Regions from separate parts of the Homo sapiens genome. Here all the other regions are linked to region 1. Evidence: fine-mapped expression QTL. A gene starts in region 1. Each other region holds a variant in brackets. All regions are shown on one strand. Distances are between the middles of the regions.

Region 1 (5,679 bases):
CAGGCTGTAGTGTAGTGACACAATCACAGCTAACTGCAGCCTCTACCTTCCGGGCTCAAATGATCCTCCCACCTCAGCCTCCCCAGTAGCTGGGACCGCAGGCACATGCCACCATGTCCAGCTACTTTTTGTATTTTTTGTAGAGAAGGGGTCTTGCCATGTTGCCCAGGCTGGTCTTGAACCCGTGGACTCAAGCTATCTGCCTGCCTCCCAAAGTGCTGAGATAATGAGAGTGAACCACTGTGCCTGGGCTTTTTCTCATTTTAATGTATAGCATTATATATTGATGTATAGCTTTGAAGAGATCATTGCAGTCCCCTATAGAGGAATGAATCAATATTCACCCTCATCACTCATGTCTCAGCACTAAGAAACACAAATAGGCATTTCTATTTCTAAAAGATACTTTAAAAATATGGTTTCTTTCTGCTACTGAAGTTTCCTAAAAATCAAAAAGAAAATAGTTTCATTTTATCTTTACAATCTTTTGAACACTAGAGATATCAATCAGATATATCCATTTACAAATGAATAATAGCTAGGTTACTCTAAGAAATATATGTATGTGTATATTCGTTTAATCCTCAGCATCACCTGATGAGTTAAGTGTTTTTGTTGCCAGTATTTTATTGCCGTGGCTATCAAAGCACATAGAGGTTAACCAACTTGAGTGAGGTAAGAGTTGCGCATTGAAGAAAATACAGGTCAGGGTATTAGTGAAAGTCTCCAGCAAAGTTCCCAGGGTTCATAGGTTCTATTTATTCTGCTCTGTATGCCACAGGTTATTCCTTATTTCTTAAAAGATCTTTTCCTCAGGGCTTTCATAACATCCCGTTCCTTTCTTGCAGCTTCATTATATCTTTATTGTGCAGACACATTGACTTGAGTATGTAAAACCTAACAGTGCCTATTGTTGCACTAAAAAATGCCTTGCTATTAAAGCATGAGGCAAAAGCCTAACTTAGCTGTTTCCTGAAGTAAATCCATATTTATACAGAAAAACCCCTTAACTTCCTCTAAAACAAAAGGCATATACTCTACATAGACATATATTTGAGACATTAAAGAAACATCAATTTCCATTTTAAAAAAACGTTTAACTTAGTATCCTCTGTCAAATTTCTGGTGCCTACGAAAAAACTGTAAAAAAAATAGCTTTTGAAATATTACTCATTTTAAGTGAGTCACGCCCTAAAAGAATTTACTTGGGAGTCAAAGCTAGTTGACCCTAACATCTCAGAAATAAAACTCCAATTTGTTTATCCATTTAACCTACCATGAGTCTGTGATTTGGCAACTTGTGAAAAGCAACAACAAAAAAACCCACTAAAATATAACTGGTCACTGGAAACCCTCTTTCTGGTCTGTACTATCTAAATGCCAGCTGTCATGTCAGGCAAAAAGTAATTTGTAGAGCAGCCTTGTGGTCCACTGTATTATGTAGGAAAGACAATGTACTGGAAGAGCGAGGACTCAATCATTTCGTGTCTACTACTGAGAAACTAAATTCTGTAGAGAACATGAGGCTAAACGGAGGCTCTGGTCAGCTCAATAAAGATACGTTGGAAGAATCAATGGGGAGTTTACACAAGAGTAAAATGAAGAGTTCCAAGCTCTCTCATTGCTAACCGTACACTCTCCATGGCTGTTGCAAGTGGTTTTGCAGGTCATCCAAGCACTAATCTTTTCTTAGCCCGAACACATTTAAAGAGGGAAGGGGCAGAGATCATTCACACTGTGAATGTTTCTCTCTGAACTTCCTGAAGTCAACTGGGCGGAGGCCCTACCGGTTCAGGCACCTGCAATTTCCGCCTTTCTCCTTCCCCTTCTTCCGGGCTCCCGTCCCGGCTCATCACCCGGCCTGTGGCCCACTCCCACCGCCAGCTGGAACCCTGGGGACTACGACGTCCCTCAAACCTTGCTTCTAGGAGATAAAAAGGTAATGATCGTCATGTGCAGTATGAGGTCTTCACGTGAAAGCTTTATTTGGGTAGGAAAACCTAGCCTACGAGAAACGGGTCCGTGCGGTCACGCCTGACTGCCTGTCTCCGGGTCAAGGCTGCCAGGACCAGCTCCAGCCCTCCGCCCGAGAAGGCTGTCCTTTCCCCTCGGAACTCTGGCTTCCCTAAAGCGGCCGCGCCTCCTTCCAGGCCTCACCTCCTGCCGGCTCCGCCCGGCCCGGCCCACCTCGCCCCCACCTCGGCGCCCACCCATTGTCCCCTCGCGCAGTCACCGAGCGCAGATCCCGCGCTCTCGATTGGAACGCCTCCCCATCACTCAGCCACACTCAGGGGCTGGACGCCTCACTCCCGTTTCCGAGCCATAAAAGGTCTAGGACCGCTTCCCCCGAGCCAGCAGGTAAAGCCGCGGCGGCGGGAGGGAGGCCGGGAGGGGCCGCGCGCCCCGGTCGGCCCAGCCGGGGAAGGGGAGCGGCGGGCGGGGCGGGGGGCAGCGCACCACACACAACCCTCCCTTGCCGTGCGACCGCGCCCTGCCCCCGCCCCGGGGCCCCCGCCCCGCAAGTCCTGATCACAATGCCGGAGCCGCCGAGCCACCCTTGTCATCCTGCCCGGGGACGGCCCTGGGGCAGTTACTACCGCGAAGCACGGAGGGTGGGGCGGGCCGGGCCTCGGGGAGGGGTGGGGGGATGTGAAAGGTCCCGGATGTTGCTGAACGGGAGCCCCTTCCAGAGGGAGTGACTGGGGCAAGCGCAGACGGGCTGAGCGAAAGCTAAGGTGGGGGTAGGGAGAGAACGCCTTCCCGCCGGCTGAGAGGAAGAGTGGGCCGGCAGAGGCTGCAGGGGAGAGGGAGAGAGAGGGCGTTGGGGACCCAAAGGGAAGGCGAGGAGTGGGGGATTTGCGTTGGGGAGGAAAAGGAAAAAAGCAGCCTCCTGCCCTAGGTGCACTCGGGACAAGCGTAGAGGAGCTGGAAGCCGAGCGGGGTGGGAGGAGTGGCGGCTGCGGGCGAGGACGCGCGCGCCTCCGCTCGCCCTCCAGCGCGGGCGGGCAGGACGAGCGCCGGGGAGCGGCGGTTACGCGGGGCCCCGATCGCTGTGGGCACCAATCAACGGTTGCCATAGCAGCGTTTGACGTCATCGTGCGTGTGGTGCCCCTGCTGCCGGGGCTGGTGATTGGAGGAAACCCCGTGTCTGCGGAGCGGCTGTAGCCTGTGAGCAGCGAGATCCAGGGACAGAGTCTCAGCCTCGCCGCTGCTGCCGCCGCCGCCGCCCAGAGACTGCTGAGCCCGTCCGTCCGCCGCCACCACCCACTCCGGACACAGGTGAGGAACCCGGCCGCCGCCGCGCCTCGCTTCCTGTCCCAGGCCAGCCTTCCGAACGCGTGGGAGCCGTCCTCGCTCCGTCCCCTCATCCCCACTCGCCCCGCGGTGGCGGCGCCGGGCTGAGGCGGAGTCTCCTCAGCGGACACGGGCGGCGGCTCCTCTTCCGCTGGGCTCGGGAGGGCGGCTAGCGGCCGCCTCCGGCTCCTTGCTTCCGCATCGACGCCCCGGCGCCGATCGGTGCTCGCTCCCCCGTCCTGCCCCCGGGGGTGGGTAGGGCGCCCACACGCGAGATCCCTGGGGATCTCCCTGTCGCCGGCTCCCGAAGGTGGACGAGGCATGGCCGGGGCGCCGCCGGCCGCGATCCATCCCCACCCTTGTCTCTGCGGGCTTCCACCCCCTCCCTCGCCGCCCTTCTCGCTTCCGCCCGAGATAATGACTCGGCGGCGGCGGCGGCGGGCATCGCAGTGGCGCAGGTGAGGCCGCCCCCTCCCCTCTCCCTCGGCCGCCCCCTCCTTTCCCTCCCCCTCGCGCAGCCTCCGCGCTGGGCGCTGCGGCGGCGGGACCCGGCCCTCCCCCACCCCGGGAGGCGGTGGCGCGGCGGGGAGGGGCCGGGGGCCTCGGGGACCCAAGCGCGAGGGAAAGGCCTGGCCGAGAGCGGGCCGGAGCCCAGGCCTGGCGCGGCGGCGCCCGCCAGGTAGACCGGGGCGAGGCTGCGCGCCGGCGGGAGGGGAGTCCACTGCGGGGTGAGGTTTTGGGGTGGGGCTCGCCTGGGACCTAGAGCTGAATTTCCTGGGCTCCGCGGTGGGAGGAAGGACTTGAATTTTCCTGGTGGGGGTGGGGGATGGGTCTGACTTTTTTTGCTCCTTGTGAACGGGCGGGGGAGGTGTGGACGGGGGCTGCAAGTCCAGGTCGGGGTAGAGAACAGGGTGGTGAGCCCGCAGTCGGCTCCCGTGCTTGATGGACTAGAACTGGAGGGTCCCTGCGCTCGGTTTGGGGACGCATATCCTGCTTTGGGGGCGGGTGAGCCTGAGCATAGCCGCTGGTGGCCCGCTCGGCTGGGTGTGGCTCTCGTCCCCTCCCCCACCTGCAGCTGTCGGTCCCTTAGAGACGCTGTACACGGTCACCGGCGCTGATCGGTGGCGGGGAAGGCGCTGGGTGGGAGAGCGGGGTGTGTCCGCGGCGGGGCTGGTAGTGGTTCCGCTTCTGCGGGCTGCTGTGGCGTCTCTGCCCCGGGGTCGGGCGGCTTCGCTCCCCATCTCTCCCCCCCCCCCACGGCTTGGGCGGGGGCGCGGGCTGCTCCTCCCTCTGGCTCCGGTCGGGGGGAGGAATTAACACTCTGCAGTAGGTTGGGCTCCCTGACACAGATCCGCCATGACAAAGGAGGAGAGTCGGGGACTTGAGCCGTGGCTCCGACTTGGGCGGAGCCTGGAGGGGGGTGGTTGCGATACGCGGACCGGAGAATTTGCACTTTAAAGTCCGGGTCTGCCCGTTTTCGTTTCACAGTAACCGACGTCTCAAGTCAGGTAAGGGTTAAATGGGTGCGGTGAGTCCTGCCCGCAGTGTAGAGGCGAGGCCTTGGAGCACTCGTTACTGTGTGAGAAACCTTATCCACTTCCTCTTGTACCGAAGTGATTGGGGAGAGAATCCTTTGTACTGGCTTAAATCATTTTTTGTTAGAAGCAGAAATAACCAGAGAGCGTTTCTGAGATCCTAAGGGAAAAATCAGTAATTTAGAGACCTGACGAAAATAATGCCGTCATAAAGGTTAAATAGTTTACGTATTGAGCCAGTACCTTGCATCCAAAGTGGTTAATTATTTGTTTAAAATGTGGCGACCTGTTCTCTCATTTGGTTAAAAAAATATTGTGGGATTTCCCTGGGAAGGTAAAAGATGATTAATATTCGGGAGCCAGCTGCCAAGGTGGACTCTTCTGTTCACCTTCTAACTTAAAAGTGCACTTCATTCAGGGTGTGTATTTTCCTCTGAAGTCATTTATTCTGTGGTGTCACTGTGTGGATTAGTATCTTTGTGCTGTTCGGCAACTTGCAAAAGGGTATCTTTCCAGAAAAATGTAGCTGAGGTAAATCGAAAAGGTCCAGGAAACTAAAATGCGAGGGAAAGAGAATTAGATGGGTAGTCATGGTAAAGGACAGCTTGAGTGGTAACATCCAATTACATTATGATGGCTAGAAGCAAAATGCAGCACTTCTGCATTTCAACTGGAGCGATGACATTGGAAACACTTATAAATTAAGTACTTCCAATGTGATATATTCTAGTACTCACAGTAAGAGTTGAAGTGTCATGACTTGCGGATATTTTTAAAGCATGTGGACATATAACAAGATAAAGAGTTGAGACATTAGGGTCAGATATTGATCCTTTGTGGTGGATTTATA
Region 2 (5,679 bases), 26 kb before region 1:
CAGCCTCAAACTCCTGGATTTAAGCAATCCTGCGGTGTCAGCCTCCTGAGTAGCTGGGACTACAGGTGCTCACCACTGTGCCCAGCTAATTTTTTATTTTTTGTAGAGAAGGAGCCTTGCTATGTTGCCCAGGCTGGTCTTGAGCTCCTGGGCTCAAGTGATCCTCCTGTCTCAGCCTTCCAACATGCTAGGATTACAGGCATGAGTCACCATGCCTGGCTGACACCCTCTGTTTTAACCTGATAGGATGCATGTGCCACAGTCCTCTCCTCTGTTCTGTAAGTTTTAGATCCTAGAGCAATATTTCTCCACCTCAGCACTATTTTTCTTTGAGGTCACATAATATTTTGTGGGGGAGGGTGGGTGGCCCTGTTCATTGTAGGAGGATGTTTAGCAGTATCCCTGGTCTCTACCCACTAGCTGCCAGAAGCAACCCCTTCCTCCAACAAAGTTGTCACAACCAAAAATGTCACCAAATTTGCCAAATGTCCCCTGGGGTACAATATTGCCCCCACTTAAGAGCTACTGCTCTAAGGTTGTCACTGAAAAGAGAGTAGAAGTACTCACAATACTAGCTGGGTCCAGAGATGCTAAAAAATGATACAATGTTTTCAAAATATTTGGCTTACAAAAATCCAATCAACATGTACATTATTTTTTCAAAAAAGTTCTTAGTTAAGCAAAATATATTTATACATAAAATAATCCTTTTTTTCTTTTTTTTTTTTTTGAGATAGAGTCTCACTCTGTCACCCAGGCTGGAGTGCAGTGGCACAATATCGGCTCACCACAACCTCCGCCTCCCAGGTTCAAGCGATTCTCCTGCCTCACCCTACCGAGTAGCTGGGATTACAGGCGCCCGCCACCACACCCAGCTAATTTTTGTATATTTAGTAGAGATGGGGTTTCACCATTTTAGCCAAGTTGGTCTTGAACTCCTGACCTTGTGATCCACCCGCCCTGGCACCCTAAACTTCTGGGATTACAGGCATGAGCCACCGCGCCCAGCCAAAATAATCCTTTCTTAAAAGTAAATGGTCCAATTAATACAGATTGTTGCTAGGTATGAAAAAAGATGGCACCATGACCAACTCACGTTTAACCTCTTATTAAATACAACACTGAGAAGGTGATTTCTCCCTTGAGTCTTTCTTTGGAAAAGGAACAGAAGTTACCCTGACAGTAGATCAGTCAAAGAAACAAGTCTTCCTAGAATATGCCTTTACATTTCCTGTTCCCTCTGGCCCAAAAGCTTTCTCAAGAGAGTCATATGGTTTCTACCTTGTTCAGGAAACCTCTTGGGCTCAAATAATCCTCCCAGCCCAGCCTCCCAAGTAGCTAGGACTACAGGCACATGCCACCACATCCAGCTAAAAACTAAACATACTCTTATACAATCCGGCAATCACACTCCTTAGTATTTACCAAAAGAGTTGAACGTTTATGTTTACACAACAACCCATACACAGATGTCTCCCTCTGTTGCCCAGGCTGGTATAGAACTCCTGGGCTTCAGCAATTCTCCCACCTTGTCCTCCCAAAGTGCTTGGATTACAGGCATGAGCCAGCATGCCCTACTTGACAAATATTTATTAAGCACCTACCTAGCACTAGGCACCATTCCCAGGTGCAAGGATACAGGAGACAATAAAAAAAAAGTCTTCCCTAAAGAGAAATACACGTTTAAGTTTCTTCCACTTCTCTTCATGGCTGATAGCTCATTTCTCTTTAATACTGTATAATATTCCATTGTCTCAATGGACCACAGTTTATCTATCAATCAATTTCACCTATCAAAGGACATCTTGGTCCTTTAGTTTTGTCAGGGTTCTGGACTTTGGCCATTCTAATAGGTATATAGTGAGATCTCATTGTTATTTTAATTGGCATTTCCCTGATGACACATGATGTGGAGTATCCTTTCATAATGCTTATTTGCCATCTGTATACCTTCTTTGGTGAAGTTTCTGTTAAGGTCTTTAGTCCATTTTATAGTCAGGTTTGTTTTGTTTTGTTTTGTTTTTTTGACAGAGTCTCACTCTTTTTGCCCAGGCTGGAGTGCAGTGGCATGATCTTAGCTCACTGTAACCTCTGCCTTCCGGGTTCAAGCGATTCTCCTGCCTCAGCCTCCTGAGTAGAGTAGCTGGGATTACAGGCGCCCTCCACCATGCTCGGCTAATTTTTGTATTTTTAGTAGAGACAGGGTTTCGCCATGTTGGTCAGGCTGGTCTTGAACTCCCGACCTCAGGTGATCCACCTGCTTCGGCCTCCCAAAGTGCTGGGATTACGGGCATGAGCCACTGCACCCTGCCAGTTGTTTGTTTTTTTATTGTTGAGCTTTAAGAGTACATTTTGGATAAAAGTTCCTTATCAGATAATGTCTTTTGCAACTTTTTTCCAAGTCTGTGGCTTTTTATTCTCTTAACAGTGCTTTTCACAGGGCAGAGATTTTTAATAACATCCAGCTTATCAATTTTTTCTTCATGGATCATGCCTTTGATGTCATATCTGAAAGGTCATTGCCAAACCCAAGGAAGAAAGACATGGCCAGTTCCCTCCTTCCCCCAAATGGATTTTAGATTTAGAGGAAATTTCGATTTCCTCCTTTCTTATCTTCTAGGAGTTTTATACTATTTTAGTTTACATTTAGGTGTGTGATTCACTTTGAACTAATTTTTGTAAAAGGTATAAAGTCTGTGTCTAGATTCTTTTTCTTTTTTTTTTGCACATGGATGCCCAGTTGTTCCAACACTCTTATTGAAAAGACTCTCTTTTCTCCACTGTATTGTCTTTGCTCCTTTGTTAAAAATCAGTTGACTTGCCGGGTGCAGTGGCTCAAGCCTGTAATCCCAGCACTTTGGGAGGCCAAAGCAGGCAGATCACTTGAGGTCAGGATTTCAAGACCAGCTGGTCAACATGGCAAAACCTAGTCTCTACTAAAAGTACAAAAATTAGCCTTGCATGGTAGTGTGCACCTGTAACCCCAGCTATTCAGGAGGCTGAGGCAGGAAAATCGCTTGAACCCAGGAGGCAGAGTTTGCAGTGAGCCAAGATTGCACCATTGCATTCCAGCCTAGGCGACACAGTGAGACTTCATCTCAAAAAAAAAAAAAAAAAATCAGGTGACTGTTTTTATGTGGGTCTATTTCTGAAAGGGAGACTTTTAACTGCATATTGTATTATAGCTTTTGAATTTTGAATTATGTGAAAATAATAGCTACTTAAAACATTTAAAAATTGGCCAGGTAAACCAGGTGCGGTGGTTCACACCTGTAATCCCAGCACTTAGGGAGGCTGAAGC[G/A]GGCAGATCACCTCAGGTCGGGAGTTCAAGACCAGCCTGACCAACATGGAGAAACCCTGTCTCTACTAAAAATACAAAATTAGCAGGGCATAGTGGCTCATGCCTGTAATCCTAGCTACTCTGGAGGCTGAGGCAGGAGAATCACTTGAACCCTGGAGGCAGAGGTTGCGGTGAGCCGAGATCGTGCCATTGCACTCCAGCCTGGGCAACAAGAGCGAAACTCCATTTTGAAAAATAAATAAATAAATAAATAAATATAAAAATTGGCTCACGCCAGCACTTTGGAAGGCTGAGGTGGGAGGATTGCTTGGGTCTAGGAGTTTGAGACAAATCTGGACAATGTAGTGAGACCCCCATCTCTACAAAAAATAAAAAGTTAGCTGGGCATGGTGACTTCCACCTGTAGTCCCAGTTGCTCAGGAGACTGAGGTGAGAGGATCACTTGAGCCTGGGAGCTTGAGGCTGCAGTGAGCCATGATCTTGCCACTACACTCAGCCAGGGGAACAGATTGAGACCCTGAGAAAGAAAAGAAAGAAAGAAAGAAAGGAAGAAAGACATGGCCAGTTCCCTCCTTCCCCCAAATGGGGATGTATAATGTCTGCTCCACCGTTACTTTACATAAGTATCATACTCAAAAGTCATGTTCACTACATCTTATTTATCCTTAGTGTAAAATTGAGTTCTGTTGTTATTTGTGCAAAGTAAAGTGACAGATTGTTTTTGATGATCATTCCTTATTTTGAGAGTCTTTTGGCTTCTTTTAAGTTGTACTTCAGTGTTTCTTCATTTTTTTCATGTATTTTCAGCCATGTTTATGCAAAAAAAGTAAAGCTATCACGATGTGTAACCTATAATTATAAATAACAATTATTTCAGGACATATGTCTACTTAACTTGATAGCTAGCTTTTGAGAAAATGAAGTATAAATTTAAGTATTGTAAATCACAGAGTTTAAATGCATCATGGAGACATTCTGAGATGACCCTGTGGTGAATAGTTTTAATTTTTATTTTATTTTATTTATTTATGTTTTTTGAGACAGGGTCTCACTCCATTACCCAGGTTGGAGTGCAGTGGTGCAATCATAGGTCACTGCAGCCTCGACCTCCCAGGCTCAGGTGATCTTCCCACCTCAGTGCCCCCCGGTAGCTGGGACTACAGGCATGCACCACCACGCCTGGATAATTTTTTGTATTTTTCATAGAGATGTTGTTTTATCACGTTGCCCAGGCTGGTCTTGAACTCCTGGGCTCAAGCGATCCACCCACCTTTCCCTCTTAAAGTGCTGAGATTACAGGCATAAGCCATCGAACCTGGCCAATACTTTTATTTTTTAAAAATTAAAAATTAAAAAGAATCCTCTGCAAAGCAAGTAATTATCCCTTATTCTATCTTGTCTTATCCTTATCCTATCCAAGCTACATTTAAGTGTCACATCTGGTTTCTTGAGTGACATGATTAAAAATACTAAGTCATAATTAACAGTAAGGGCAGGCTGAATCACAAAGGTCCTAAAGTACACCTACCTTCTCACTACATTTGAACTGTGTTGGGCAGGATACATGCAGTGGCAATGGGAGTGGAGACAGGGAGGAAACTGGATGAACAAATGAATGAATGAGTGAAAGAACAGATAGTAGGACTATTTTATGGCAAAGCAAAAGTAGAAATTCACTTCACGAATCACTCCATCTTTTTGGAACTGAGTTCAAAGGGAGCAAAATGATGCAGAAAAACATATAGACAATAATCACTTCAGGCTACTTTGGGTAGCCTGACAGTTTTTTGGAAGACCATGAAAGTGAAGCAGACAGATCAGCCTGGCATTCAAAAATGAGAGATGTGGTTGGGCACAGTGGCTTACACCCAGCAATTTGGGAGGCTGAGGCAGAGGAATCACCTGAGGTCAGGAGTTTGAGACCAGCTTGGCCAACATGGTGAAACTCCGTCTCTACTAAAAATACAAAAATTAGCCAGGCATGGTGGTGGGCGCCTGTAATCCCAGCTACTCAGGAGGTTGAGGCACGAGAATCACTTGAACCCGGGAGGCAGAGGTTGCAGTGAGCCGAGATTGTGCCATTGCACTCCAGCCTGGGCGACAAGAGTGAGTCTCCATCTCAAAAAGAAAGAAAGAAGGAAAGAAAGAAAGAAAGAAAGAAAGAAAGAAAGAAAGAAAGAAAGAAAGAAAGAAAGAAAGAAAGAAAGAAAGAAAGGAAAGAAAGAAAGAAAGAAAGAAAGAAAGAAAGAAAGAAAGAAAGAAAGAAAGAAAGAAAGAAAGACAGAGAGAGAGAGAGAGAGAGAGGTGACAGCTCCTGCTATGGGAAAAATAATCACAGAGGTGCAGAGGCAAGCTGGACATGTTCAAAGTTTATACAA
Region 3 (5,679 bases), 120 kb before region 1:
AAAGTGAGTCAGTAATTCCAGACCACACTCAAGGAGAGCGGTTACATAAGGCATGAAGAACAGGAGGCGGAGATCACCAGGGGCCATCTTACAGAATGACTCCCACAATGTTTAATTAATGCTATTTTTATTATTCCATTTGTATATCTTATTCCCCAAATTATTCTCCATTAATGCTGCTACTAATTTCCACTTCTGTGTTTTGCTGCTGTTCCTTCTGCCAGGAATGCCTTCCTCTAAATATCTATGGTTCCCAATCCTACACATCCTTTAAGGCCACACTCAAATGCCACTTCCATGAAGCTTTGCAAATTGCCCCCTTACAGGAAGTACTTTCCTTCTCTGATGTCCAAAAGGGAAGAGTTTGATAAGGGAATAAGGGAAAGTGACAAATCCAGGCTATTGGATTTAGGCCCCCTGAGTCCATGAAGACACCGACTCTGTGAGATTCCAGAAACTTCTGTCATGGCTCTGCTTGTTCTGGGCTGGCTGAGCACCTACCCATTTGCTAATCCTTAGAACTAGGCTTCTCTAATAAACTGATATGAATCCAAAAATTAGAGCTCTTCTGAAGGCTGGACTCCAAAAGCTCCAATAACATATGCAGACAAAGAGCTATTTGCCCCACGTGGAGATAAAGCACTTGAGAGGGAAACCTAACTGTGGGTGGTGTGCTCGTCTTATGAATTCTCTTGTGGGTTTGAGAACTTCATCTTCCAAAAAGGCTCCATGGGGACTGAAAAGGGCCTTATTCCACCCCAGAATACCCTTTTCTAATAAATCCAGTTGTCCCAAAAGGATAAACTACCTAAGGGTGTCCATGGGTGTGGTGGGCAACTAGGGAAGAGACAAAGCCAGGAGTCCTGGATCCGAATTGAGCCAGTTCAGCCATGATCTTCAGCGGGGGGCATCAAGTCAACTTAGGAGGAGAAGAGGAGGAAACTCCTGGGTATTATCCACCCATACTGGGCACTGAACATGATGTCATTAAATCCTCAGAAAAGCCTGGTAAGGAAGGTGATATTTTTCACATTTTACAGGTGAGGAAACTAAGGCTCAGTGAGGTGAAATGGCCTGCCCCAGGTCACACCGCCAGTGGAACACAGACTGCTTGACTCAATGCCCGTATTCATTCCATGATCCTCTCTTACAAATGGCTGTAGGAGAACAAAGGGAAAGGGCAGGGTTAGGAGCCAAGCTAACTAAAGTAACTCCAAAAATAGCTATTACAGACCAAGCATAAAGTTACAGTTAGTTCTCCAAGATTCTAAGCCAAATTTTAGCCAGGCTTCCCTTATTGTTCCTGAGTTGCATAATAGGCAAATCTTCCACAGGGACGACTTGGGGGAAGAAGGTGAGAAAAGATGCTTAGTATGATTAATAGCAAGACTTCCACAGTCCCCTGACCCCCACCCCATTACCAACCCCACCTTTATCAGAAGATGCCTACTAACAAGGATGACACACACATCCAGAAAGTTAACAGGATAAAAAATCTAAATACTAGCTTCCATTCTTGCATGACTTGTCTCCTGCACTCCTCACTCTTTCTGTCCTGGCCTTCTGTTCTTTTAAGATTGGGTCAGCTTTTCTGTTTCAGGAAAGGTGTTTCAAATGTGTTTCCCAAAAGGAAGCAGAGGCTCAAGCCAGGAGAAGATGAGGGCCTCGTTCAAGGCTAAGACAAGCCTAAAATTGCTGATACCAATCCCTTTGTGCTCATCTCCCCTTGACAACATGGACTAGGTTGAATTGCCCTAGATGCCAGGCATGGTGGCTCATGCCTATAATCCAAGCACTTAGGGAGGCTGAGGCAGGAAGATTGCTTGAGACCAGGAGTTTGAGACCAGTCTGGGCAACATAGCAAGACCCTATCTCTCAAAAAACTTTAAAAATTAGCTGGGTGTGGTGGTGCACACCTGTAGTCCCAGCACTTCGGGAGGCTGAGGTAGGAGGATTGCTTGAGCCCAACAGTTCAAGGTTGCCATGAGCTATGATCATGCCACTACTTTACAGCCCGGGTGACAGAGTAAGACCCTGTCTGTAAGAAAACAAACAAACAAAACATTGCTGTTGAGCCTTTTGGGGGTATGGTATGGAAGGAGAGAGAGGTCTAGGAGTGCCCACTCAAGACAATAAGGTAGCATTGGTCTTTTGATGCTCTCAACTAATGTTCTTTAGCACAAACTCTCTGCCAAGCACTGGGCTGTAGGTACAATGGGACTCCAAAGGGAGAGAAACTCAGAATTTCAAATTCCACAGGGGAGATATAATATGCACACATAGCTTAAAAATAAGACAGCATGTTATAAATGCCATTTAAAAATTAAATTAAATTACTATTCCTTGAAAAGGAAAGAAATTTTGACGCATGCTACAACATGGGTAAACCTTGAGGACATCATATGAAGTGCAATAAACCAGTCACAGAAAGACTACTATTGTATGACTTCACTTACCGGGTACCTACAGTAGTTAAGAGACAGAAAATAACATGGTAGTTGCAGGGACTGAGGGGATTGGGAAATAGAGAGTTGTTTTTTAATGGA[T/C]AAAGTTTCAGTTTTGCAAGATGAGAAAGTTCTGGAGGGTGGTTGCACAACAATGTGGATACACTTAACACTGCTGAAATGTACACATAGAAACATTGAAGATGGTAAATTTTATCTTATGTGTATTCTACCACAATTAAAAATAAAAATTTTGGGCCGGGCATGGTGGCTCATGCCTGTAATCTCAGCACTTTTGGAGGCTGAGGCGGGTGGATCACTTGAGGTCAGGAGTTCAAGACCAGCCTGGCCAACATGGTGAAACCCTGTCTCTACTAAAAATACAAAAATTAGCCAGGTATGGTGGCACATGCCTATAGTCCCAGCTACTCAGGAGGCTGAGGCGTGAGAATCTCTTGAGCCTGGGAGGTGGAGGTTGCAGTGAGCCAAGATCATGCCACTGCACTCCAGCCTGGGTGACAGAGAGAGACTCTGTCTCAAAAAATAAAAATAGGCCAGGCGCGGTGGCTCATGCCTATAATCCCAGAACTTTGGGAGGCCGAGGCTGGTGGATCACCCAAGGTCAGGAGTTCGAGACCAGCCTGGCCAACATGGTGAAACCCCATCCCTGCTAAAAAAAAATACAAAAATTAGCTGGGTGTGGTGGCAGATGCCTGTAATCCCAGCTACTGGAGAGGCTGAAGCAGGTACAATTGCTTGAACCTGGGAGGCAGAGGTTGCAGTGAGCCAAGATCGCACCATTGCGCTCCAGCCTGGAGGACAAGAGCAAAATTCTGTGTCAAAAATAAATTAATTAATTAAATAAAATAAAAATAAATACAAAAATTTTAAAGAAAAAAACTACTATTGACTTACAGAAGGTGAAACAATTATGTATCTCACTGGGGATATCAAAGAAGGCTTCACAGAGGAGGGGCCATTTGAACTGAGCCATTTAGAAAAGATGGGTTAAAGATGGGCAGAAAAGAGCATTCTAGGCGGACAGAGCAGCAGCAGCAAAAGCACATCCTAAAAAAAAAAATCGAGAGATTTCTCTCTTCCATTGCACCAACCCTTAACAGAAAACATTTTTCCAGTGATCAAACTGCCCAAGCCCGCATGTGTGACTCCCAGCACAGCGTGGCTCTCCTGCCCGCTCCCTCTCTTCCTCTCATCCCCTCTCTCTGTGCCTGCCTCTTCCTGCCTCTTGTTCTCTCTCTCTCTGGTGTCTTTTGAACCTTCTAAAATGAACCTTTGACAAAAGTTTGCTTTTAGCTCAGAAGCAGCCTTCCTTAAGGTCTCTTTAATAACAGCAAACACCCAAAGACTCTCACACCTTTATTAACAGAGCTTGTTTTGCTGTTCTTTTTTCTCTCCTTGGATACCAGAAGCTTAAGAAGAAATTACCTCATCACCACTACAGGCAGGTCCCAATTGTAAAAACAGTCCTTTTGACAGACACTTCATCGCCAGTTCTCCCTATGAATGGCAGCTTTGCAGAACAGCCTCTGGCATGGGAGGAAGGAGAGAGCTTCGATTTATATTAATACTTGATTTCTGAACAGAAGTCAAGAGAAGAGTGGGCTCGGTGGAGAATTTCTTCATCTTTGGAGGGATGATTAAACCAGAACTTATTATTCTCCATGTAAATCACCAGGACTTAAAGCAAGAATCCTGCTTTTTCTGATGAGAATGGTAGCCAGGCAAGGGAAGGCATGCAAGGCTGCAGGGAGATAATGGTCTGAGCCCTGGCCCTAGGCACACCCAAAACGCAGGCTTTCCCCAGCAACCAGTGCAGCTGGGGCAGCAGGCAGAGGGTTCACATTATCAGGGTAGCCAGCATGGAGCTTACTCTCGCAGGTTCCCAGAGTGCAGACACGCCTCGTGGGGATGCCAAAACCTGCCTGTTAGAGCGAACCGATGTGGCCTGAAGTGAAACTCTGCTTCCTTCTGCCTGGTGTGACTCAGCGAGGCTGCAGGATCTCCGATGAGAAACTAGCCTTGTGCTTGATTTCTGCCTTTTTGTCCTGTCCATAATTTTTTTTTTTTTTTTTTTTTGAGATGGAGTCTCGCTCTGTCCTCCAGGCTAGAGTGCAGTGGCATGATCTCGGCTCATTGCAACCTCTGCCTCCCGGGTTCAAGTGATTCTTCTGCCTCGGCCTCCCAAGTAGCTGGGACTACAGGAGCACACCACCACGCCCGGCTAATTTTTGTATTTTTAATACAGATGGGGTGTCACTATATTGGCCAGGCTAGTCTCGAACTCCTGACCTCGTGATCTGCCCACCTCGGCCTCCCATAGTGCTTAGAGGCGTGAGCCACCGCACCTGGCCTGTCCTGCCCGTAATTTTTAATCATTACCTTTAATTCTGAGTGAGGACCCGTAGCCTTTTTGAGGATGAATGGTGCCAAGCCCTGAAAATAGAGCGAGCAGCATCGACATAGGCCCTGCCTCCTCTCCACAAAGTCGGCCTCCACGCTGAAGAATTCATACTGCCCTTTTCTGAATTCCTTCAGCTCAATCTAGACAGCTCTCAGGTAGTCAAACACTGGAGAGAAGGCAGAGCTCAGCGTGAGTCGTGAGTCAGGGAGCCTGTCTGGCCTTGACTTTACTGGAATTGATCACTTGGGAGTTAAGGGGGAAAATCTAATTTAGGGACCACAGTCCTTCCTTCGTGTCTATTCAATTACGTTAAAAATTATAACAACAAAACCATGGAATCTCAGCATCGGCGAGAGCCCCTGGTGTCATCTTGGCCAAGCCCGGCAGGATGCAGGAAACCTCCAGGGCATCCCAGCTGCCTTTGCTGGCTCAGATAATCAGACATTTTCCCCGAGAGAAGACTGCAAGTGCACTCCTTTTGGGAGTGAAATGAACTGTTCGGAAACTCTGAGACTAAATGAAAATGAAAATCAGCTTACTTAACAGCCTCCACCCATAGATACTAATGCCTGGCACGTGTGCCTGAGATATGTCTGTTGACTGACCAACTGGTTGACTGATTGATTGAATGAATGAGTGAGTGAATGAATGACTAAACAGAGTGAACTGGCATGGGGATCAAAGGGAAGCAGAGAGAGAAATTGCAGTGGTGAGAGGTAATGGACAAGTGGGAAAAAATGGGGAGACAGAACATTTTTCTCTAAAGATTTTTTTTCTTGTTGTTTTCTGAATAAAATGGGGAGGGAGGGCCAG

Evidence for each region. PIP is the estimated chance that this variant, and not a neighbour inherited with it, causes the effect. A credible set is the group of variants that fine-mapping cannot tell apart.
Region 2: its variant is the best candidate, but not a certain one, in a credible set for the expression of YWHAZ in whole blood (INTERVAL, PIP 0.85).
Region 3: its variant is the best candidate, but not a certain one, in a credible set for the expression of YWHAZ in monocytes (TOPMed, PIP 0.81).

The regions. Positions count from the first base shown.
Region 1 is chr8:100,949,529-100,955,207 of GRCh38, reverse strand. It overlaps YWHAZ (tyrosine 3-monooxygenase/tryptophan 5-monooxygenase activation protein zeta), which reads left to right and starts at 3,188. Exons shown (of 6, transcript NM_145690.3): 1 at 3,188-3,279. RefSeq lists enhancers at 1,704-1,833, 1,844-1,953, 2,233-3,091, 4,244-4,323, 3,950-4,809 and 1 more and silencers at 2,094-2,773, 2,794-3,053, 3,284-4,053, 4,444-4,663.
Region 2 is chr8:100,976,001-100,981,679 of GRCh38, reverse strand. No RefSeq gene overlaps it. Among named protein-coding and RNA genes, the nearest start is that of YWHAZ, 27 kb to the right of the region's middle. The variant G/A (reference allele first, on the strand shown) is at 3,302.
Region 3 is chr8:101,070,647-101,076,325 of GRCh38, reverse strand. It overlaps SLEAR (STAT1 regulated ILF2 complex interacting lncRNA), which reads right to left. Exons shown (of 3, transcript NR_033962.1): 3 at 75-1,157. Among named protein-coding and RNA genes, the nearest start is that of SLEAR, 21 kb to the right of the region's middle. The variant T/C (reference allele first, on the strand shown) is at 2,547.